Regions from separate parts of the Homo sapiens genome. Here region 1 is reported to be linked to region 2. Evidence: microRNA targets listed by miRTarBase, many of them from high-throughput screens and not tested one by one. Region 2 holds a microRNA gene; the other region holds the end of a gene's coding sequence.
What was found. The annotated mature microRNA hsa-miR-8062 reads CAGUGAUUUGAGGAUUAUUGC and lies in region 2 at 2,829-2,849, opposite strand. An mRNA with a match to its seed (bases 2 to 7 or 8) in the 3' UTR can be bound and repressed. Matches are read on the target gene's strand: a 7mer-m8 pairs with bases 2 to 8, a 7mer-A1 pairs with bases 2 to 7 and ends in A, and an 8mer does both.

Region 1 (4,406 bases), not on the chromosome of region 2:
GGCTAGGATTTGTACCTTTAGTCTAAGCCTCACCTTTAGCCACTATGTTGTACTGCCTCTCAGTGGGCTCTTCAGTTGATAATATTTTCGTCCCACCCGCACCCCCCCACCAATTGATTCCCATACTGTGGCCAAAAACTAGTTGTGATTTATCATCACATTTGCACTGTTGCTCTTCTTTTTTTTTTTTTTTTTTTTTTTTTTTTCAGAATATGCCAGTGGTATTTTCCAAGAAGAAAGGCTTTGTCCATATTTCTGCTTGCATCTGACCACTGGCTTCCTTTTCTTCTTCATAGCCCTCCCAAGCAGGCAATGCCTTCCAGGAGCATACAGCCCACATCCATGCCACAGAGTACGCGGTGGGTATCTATGACAACGCCATGGTCCCCCAGATGTGTGGGAACCTCACTCCCTCGGCACACTGCATCAATGTCAGAGCTTCCAGAGACTGCGCAAGCATTTCTTCAGAGGATTCGCATGATTATGTCAATGTCCCCACAGCAGAAGAGATTGCTGAGACTCTAGCTTCTACCAAAAGCCCTTCCAGAAATCTCTTTGTTCTTCCCAGTACCCAGAAGCTGGAGTTTACTGAGGAAAGAGATGAGGGCTGTGGAGATGCTGGTGACTGCACCAGTTTGTATTCTCCAGGAGCTGAGGACAGTGATTCACTCAGCAATGGAGAAGGTTCTTCTCAGATCTCAAATGACTATGTCAACATGACAGGGTTGGATCTCAGTGCCATCCAGGAAAGGCAGCTCTGGGTGGCTTTTCAGTGCTGCAGAGACTATGAAAATGTTCCAGCAGCAGATCCCAGTGGAAGCCAGCAGCAGGCTGAGAAAGATGTGCCATCCTCAAACATAGGTCATGTCGAGGACAAGACAGATGATCCCGGGACCCATGTCCAATGTGTCAAAAGGACATTCCTTGCTTCAGGGGATTATGCAGACTTTCAGCCATTCACACAGAGTGAGGACAGTCAGATGAAACATAGAGAAGAGATGTCAAATGAGGACTCCAGTGACTATGAAAATGTGCTAACTGCCAAGTTAGGAGGCAGGGACTCTGAGCAGGGGCCTGGCACTCAGCTCCTTCCTGATGAATGAAGACCCAGGTACCCAGCCATAAAGCCACATTGAGTAGTCTATCCCATAGGATTGACTACTGCAGAGTCTAGTGCAGACCCGTGATCACCTTAGTGCTTCAGTGGATTCACTGGTTAGATTAAAAAGAGGCTGAGATGAGCAGTGAACTAAGAGGCCACACAAAAGCAGAGGTTTGGGAATTCCAGAAGGGAATTCTTCTCAAGCAGAGTGTGGTTATCTCCTGTACCAGCCTAAGAATGTTTGCTGAAACTGCTTCCTAGAACTGTGAAGAAAGCAGGAAAGTAGTGCACAGTAGTCTAAGATTATTACCTTCATTAATACCAACAGGCTGCAAAGCAAGAGTATAGATTATTGTATAATCCAGTCAGAGGTCAAAAGGAAGGAAGAAGTTGGAGTGGAGTGGGGTGGGCAATTTCCATTTTAAAGAGTGTAGGCAGGCCAGGTGCAGTGGCTCATGCCTGTAATCCCAGCATTTTGGTAGGCCGAGGAGGGCAGATCACTTGGTGCCAGGAGTTCTAGACCAGCCTGGCCAACATGACCCATCTTTACTAAAAATACAAAAATTAGCCAGGCGTGGTGGTGTGCCCCTGTAATCCCAGCTACTCAGGAGGCTGAAGCAGGAGAATCGCTTGAACCCGGGAGGTGGAGGTTGCAGCAAGCCGAGATTGTGCCACTGTACTCCAGCCTGGTGACAGAGCGAGACTCCCTCTCAAAAAAAAAAACAAACAAAAAAGAAGTGTGGGCAACCAAATGTAGGTAAGGATGAAGAAGAACAGGAACTCTCACTGGTGGCTGATGGGATTGCAAAGCGTCAGGGCAGCTTTGAAAAACTTTTCAGCAGTTTCTTATAAGCATAACTTATCATATGGCCCAGCCATTTCACTACTAGAAATTGACGCAAGTGAACTGAAAACTTATGTTCACACAAAAACTCGCACATGACTGTTTATAGCAGCTTCATTCATAATTACCAAAAACTAGAAATAACCCAGATATCCTTCAACAGGTGATTGGATAAGCTGTTGATATCCATTCCTTGAGTTTATCCATACTCAACAGTAAAAAATGAACTCTTGGTTCACACAATAATATAGACATATCTTAAATCCATTTTGCTAAGTGAAAGAAGCTAGGCCTAAAAGTCTACATGTTGGGCGATTCTATTTATATGACATTCTGGAAAAGGCAAAACTATAGGGATGAAGAACAGATCAGTTGTTGTCAGGTTTGAGAAAAGGAGGGAAGTTTGCTACAAAGGGGCTGCAAAGGGAATAGGCTGATGGAGCTGTTCTGTATGGTACTGTGTGGTGGATACATGACAATATCCATTTGCAAACACAAGAACTATACACATGGCCAGGCGCGGTGGCTCACACCCGTAATCCCAGCACTTTGCGGGGCCGAGGCAGGGGAACACAAGGTCAGGAGATCAAGACTGTCCTGGACAACATGGTGAAACCCTGTCTCTACTGTCTCTAACATTTGTAAACCTGTCTCTAATTTGTAATTTGTAAACCCTGTCTCTCATATTTGTAAAACTACAAAAATTAGCTTGGCATGGTGGTGTGCGCCTGTAGTCCCAGCTACTAGGAGGCTGAGGCAGGAGAATCACTTGAACCAGGAAGGCGGACTGCATTCCAGCCTGGGCAACAGAGAAAGACTCTGTCTCAAAAAAAAAAAAAAAAAAAAAAAACTGTACACTAGACAAAGGGGCTTTTATTGTATGCAAATTTTTTAAAAATGAACAGACTGTCAAGGGAACCCAGGATGGTATGCAAATTGTGGCAAATGAATCTAATTGTATTATAAATGTATGATATCAACTCACTGAAAGGGATGGGGAAAAAAGAACTGACAAAGTTGGAAAACAATGTTTTGACTTATAACTGTAGATAAGGACACAAAGAACTGTATACAAAAACTGCACTCTGGTTGGTAAATTTGTATCTCACAGAGGCATGGCTTAGCAATTCTAAAACGACTTTATATGTATATTTGGGTTAAATAAGTCAATCTATTGTAGATAAGGAGAGACAGGTTAGTGTAAGAATTGAATTGCAGGGCACCCAACTGGTGTCCAGAAAGCTGGAAAATTGGTCAGCTGTTGGGGGGAGAAAATCCACACATCTGGTGTCAGAAGTGTCGTGAGTGAAAACAGACCATCACTCCACCAAGTGGCCAGCATTTAAATTCATGCCACACAGAGGGAACCATGACAGTCTGGTACTGATGACCATGCAGGGTTAGCCAGGGCAGCAGCAAGCGCATCGAAAGGACAATCCCATAGTCAAGTAAGGAGAAGTTTGTATCATATGTGAGAATGAAGCTTAAATGGACTGAACAAAATCTTAAACATTGGCATGACAGAATTCTCATAACTAAGAGGGGATGAAAAGTTATGAGATCTAAATTAGAAGTTATGAAGACATCTGTCACCCAGTAAGGGTGGGAGGGACAACGTATCAGTTGGGGGCAGGTCCTGGAATAAACTAAGCCAGCTCTTTTTTATTTTTTGAGATGGAGCTTTGGTCTTGTCACCCAGGCTGGAGTGCAATGGCATGATCTTGGCTCACTGCAACCTCCACCTCCCAAGTTCAAGCAATTCTCCTGCCTTCGCCTCCCAAGTAGCTGAGATTACAGGCGCCTGCTACCATGGTAATTTTGTATTTTTAGTAGAGATGGGGTTTCACCATGTTGGTTAGGCTGGTCTCGAACTTCTGACCTCAGGTGATCCACCTGCTGTGGCCTCCCAAAGTGCTGGAATTACAGGCGTGAGCCACCACACTGGGCCTTAAGGCAGCTCTTGCTTGTTTACACACCAACAAGCTGGATACCTCAATCAGCCAGTCACACTTACATACTCTCCCAAATCAAGAATGATTAATGCACTGTAGATTGTCTCATATTTAGATACGTAACTTTTCTGTTTATTTCTTGTTTTAAGAAATTTTTGCAAATGAATCAATGAAAAATTTTTTATTGAATGTTAATTTTTTTCTTTCCATTTATGGTTTTGTTTTCTCACATTAGTTGCCAGGAAATGTTGACTAATTGTCTTATCTCATACACTCGATGATGCTAAATATGAGGAAATTTTTTCAAGATTAGGATAGGATGAAAAAGTAGATATAAAGATAACCAAGGCCAGGTACAGTGGCTCACGCCTATAATCCCAGCTCTGTGGGAGGCCACGGCAGGCAGATGACTTCAGCCCAGGGGTTCAAGACCAGCCTGGGCAACATGGTAAAACCCATCTCTACAAAAAATACAAAAATTAGCTAGACATGGTGGTGCCTGCCTGTA
Region 2 (4,406 bases):
CTTAGGAGCAAGAGACTATACCATATAGCCTAGAAGTACATCTAGATTTGTGTAAGTACACTTTAGGATGTTCATACAAGGGCAAAAATTACCCAACTGCACATTCCTCAGGAGGTATTATCCCCCTCATTTAGCAACAAATGACTGTAGTTTTGTTTTATTGGATTTTTCTAAATGATTATTAAAAAAACAGAATATTTTATGAAGACAAAGGTAATGACACTAAAGTGAAGGCTTCTTTAGAAGACAGGTCAAGTCACACAATTCTTTAGTTTAGAAGGTTGAAGTGGAAATATTGAGTGTTACAGACCAGAACTTCTCAACCTTTAACATATATATAAATCATGATCTTGTCAAAATGCACATTTTGGTTGCAGAGGACTTGGATGAGGCCTGAGATGCTGCATTTGTAATAAACTCTCAAAGGATACAGGTGCTCCTAAGTGATGTACTGAATTCGGCAAATAAGAGTCATCTGTGGCCTGGCACAGTGGTTCATTCCTATAGTCCCAGTACTTTGGTAGGCCAAGGGGGTGGATCATTTGAGTTCAGGAGTTCAAGATCATCCTGGCCAACATGGTGAAACCCCGTCTCTACTAAAAATACAAAAATTAGCCGGGCGCAGTGGTGCGCGCCTGTAATCCCAGCTACTTAGGAGGCTGAGGCAGGAGAATTGCTTAAGCCTGGGAGGCAGAGGTTGCAGTAAGCACCATTGCACTCCAGTCTGGGCAACAGATTGAGACCATGTCTCAAAAAAAAAAAAAAAAAGCCATGAAACAGTATGCTGTTCAGGGTTTACGTATTATCTATTTACGTATTTCAAAAGCCTTACACAGTATGTTGACTTATAGAAGTTCTCAATGATTATTATGGTGATAAAGTTTCCTTAGAGAAATTTTATCCCATGACTCTTAATATTTTGATCATATCTACCCTGTAAAAATCAATAAAAAAAACATGGTCTGACAAGCGCCAAATTTTTATTCAAATGCATGTATCTTTGCACTTTCTAAATTCCTTTCACAGGGCTTCTAAGATTCTTAAACCTCTTAATTTTTATACATGCTGACACTGTTAATGAGCAGAAATCTTAAGTTATTACTGTAAATTCCAAAGTTGATCATTGGTAGAATTTTTATTATCTCCCAAATCTGTAAATTTTGAATGATTTTTTCCCATGCCTTCTATTATACTGTACTCTTTTTCAGAAAGGAATACATTTTCCATTCCCAAAAAAGAGGATGGATTCTATTGCATAAACCTAAATGAGCTGACTACTGGGAGTTATAACTTTGTCATGGGTTTACTGGCCTGGGAATGTACAGTATAAGCGTGTGTTGTTCCCTAGGGGAAAGGTTTAAGTGCAGCTAGGACCACCTGTTGCTAAATGTTTCCTTGAGTAGCTCTTAGTACAAAAGGGGATGTAACCATTAATGTGTAGTTGCCTTCAGCCAAAGTGAAGTGGGGAGTATATACTTTTATGCAGATGACATTAGCACATAGACATTTGCATCCTAAGATATCAAAAGAATTAGTGACATTCTCCCTTTCTCATTCTCAATAGGGTTATACAGCTGTAGCAATTGCCTGTGGGCTATAAAAATAGACACTAGATGTTCTGGACCATGGGCTTATGAACCATGGGTACGGAAGAGTATTTTGAAAACCCTTCATGTGTAGAATCTGAAATAAATGTGCTTGTTGAGATTCAATAATGTTTGCCGATACCCATGTAGGTGCCGGGGGAACCTAAGGAAGAACCTTAGGGAGGCTGCCTTTTTGTGTGTGGAAGTGGAGGGAATGTTTCAGGACTTTTCCCAACAAAATTCAGAAAGAAAATCTCTGAAAATTGTTTTGGTGAACCCATGACAACTATTTCACTGTACTGACAATTTAGAAAAACAAGACACACGCACACACACACACACACACATTTCCCAGAGCAAAAGTGGACATGAGAGTATCTAGAAAGAGAAAGTGATTTCTCACAACACTGCTTCCATATTGAACTCTTTAATGTCTTTTGAAAAGCAAGGTCGGCCTCAGAACCATGCAGGCCTACAAGAATTCAACCATTTGTTGGTCTTTTGTTAAGATATTGATTAGATTCTTGTTCATTTCTTTGCAAGCCTCCCAGTTTAGTCTATTGATTTGTCTAAGCTTTTTTTCTTAGAGTCTTGAACTAGGTCATCGGAATAACTCTTAACATTTAACTAGAGTCATTAAAAATAAACAGACATTTGAGAATAGTGTAATTGGTTGTGAAGGCATTTCCAAGGTGGAAAGGCCAAAGGTGGCAAGGCAAGTCCTTGTGGGCATGTTGTCTTTGAGACCTGACTTACTCTGCAGTTCTCCAAGACAACTAAAGACTTCCTATAGCTTCAGGCAATAATTTGTCCGAAGACTGTTGTAAGAGTTTGGCTAAAGAAAACCAGAAAGCCTATGAAAACATGGCTTACTAGTAACACATCCCAGCTGTTTGCTCCCTGTTAAAAAGTAGAGAATGATGTGTTCTGGAACGGCTTAAGTGCTCTGCTGTGTATGTTTTTAGAACTGTACAGAGTCTTAACAGCATGAGTCCTGTTCATTTTAATCAGAGTTGTGTGGTTTAAACTTGTCTCTGAATCCAGCTTTTTGCTATTGATATGTCATGTTTAGTGTATAGTCTCTGGAATTAGGTTATTGCCAAATTTCTATTGTGTTTTTGGTGATCATGATCCCTGTGATTTTCTTACTCATCCAACTCAAGTAGAAAGATATCTTTACATCTCCTGTTAGAGCATAGGTTCTTTGAAGACAATATATTACTCATGTTTTTCTTACCGTGAGCAATAATCCTCAAATCACTGCATGCATAAGAGCAGCAGAAGAATCACCTGGAAGGCTTGATAAATCACATATCACTGGGATGCTGCATGAGAGAGTGTGATTCTGTTGGTCTGGGGTGGAGTCCAAGAATCTGCATTTTTAACAAGCTCTCTGCTGCCAATTCTGAGACCTCATTGAAATAGCACTGCCTTGGAGCCCTGCTCCACAGCCCTATCAGGCCACTAATTATATAAGATATTTTATAACACAGCCTTTACTACTCTAAAATGAAATCCATAGATAATATAAACTACCCACATACTTATCTTTAAGTCAATATAATGGTCTAATTATATTGTAAAAATAAATTGCAAATGAAATTAAGAGGAAAATAATTTATGATAAAATAAGTATTTCAACATGTCAATGTTTGGACATAACTACATTGGAAGATATAATTAAGTTGTCATGCTTATACTCATTCATAGGATCACCTTAAATGTCAGTTACAGATGTAGATATGTTGTGTAGCTACTAAAAATAATGACTAGGGTTGCCTTCTGTGATGTGATTTTCTGAAATAGCAAAAAATTATTGAGAAATTGCCAAACAAAATAAAGAATATATTTTCTCAATGTGTCTGGTAGTTGCTATTAATACAGTGTAAAAGAGATACTTTGTATTTATATGTAAAATGAATTTAAGTTTTAGGCTTAATATATAAATATGTTTTTCACCCACATGAATGTCACATAAGACCAGGTTCATTCTTCATTGTGTGAGACTATTCCGCACATTGTAGAACATCTACAACTCTAGGTCCTACTCACTGAATACCAGTAGTGCACCTCAATCTCCAAGTTCTTCTAATGCCTAAGGATACACCTTAACTAGTATATCTTCTTTTTTTTTAAGTTCCGGTGTACATGTGAAGGATGTGCAAGTTTGTTACATAGGTAAACATGTTCCATAGTGATTTGCTGCACCTATCAACCCATCACCTAGGTATTAAGCCCAGCATTCATTAGCTTTTTCTTCTGATGCACTCCCTCCCTCCACACCCCCAAAAGGCCCCAGTGTGTGTTGTTCACCTCCCTGTGTCTATGTGCTCACATTGTTCATCTCCCACTTATCAGTGAGGACATGCTGTGTTTGGTTTTCTGTTTCTGCATTAGTTTGCTAAGGATAATGGCTTCAGCTCTGCCCATGTCCTTGCAAAACACAGGATCTCATTCCTTTTTATGGCTGCATTGTATTCCATGGAGTAAATGTACCATATTTTCTTTATCCAGTCTATCACTGATGAGCATTTGGGTTGATTTTATGTGTTTGCTATTGTGAATAGTGCTGCAATGAACATATGTGTGCATGTGTCTTTATAATGGAAAGATTTATATTCCTTTGGGTTTATACCCAGTAAGGGGAAATGTGAGAAAATCTTTGCTATCTATTCATCTGACAAAGTCTAATATTCAGAATCTACAGGAATTCAAACAAATTTACAAGAAAACCGATTAAAAAGTGGACAAAAAAACATGAACAGACACTGCTCAAAAGAAGACATTTCTGTGGCCCATAAACATATGAAAAAAAGCTCA

Region 1: miRTarBase lists LAX1 as a target of hsa-miR-8062. Seed matches in the 3' UTR shown: 7mer-m8 at 2,710-2,716.

The regions. Positions count from the first base shown.
Region 1 is chr1:203,773,579-203,777,984 of GRCh38, forward strand. It overlaps LAX1 (lymphocyte transmembrane adaptor 1), which reads left to right. Exons shown (of 5, transcript NM_017773.4): 5 at 297-2,794. The coding sequence ends at 1,103. Among named protein-coding and RNA genes, the nearest start is that of LAX1, 11 kb to the left of the region's middle.
Region 2 is chr20:7,370,061-7,374,466 of GRCh38, reverse strand. MIR8062 (microRNA 8062) reads right to left here and starts at 2,859; the gene lies at 2,775-2,859.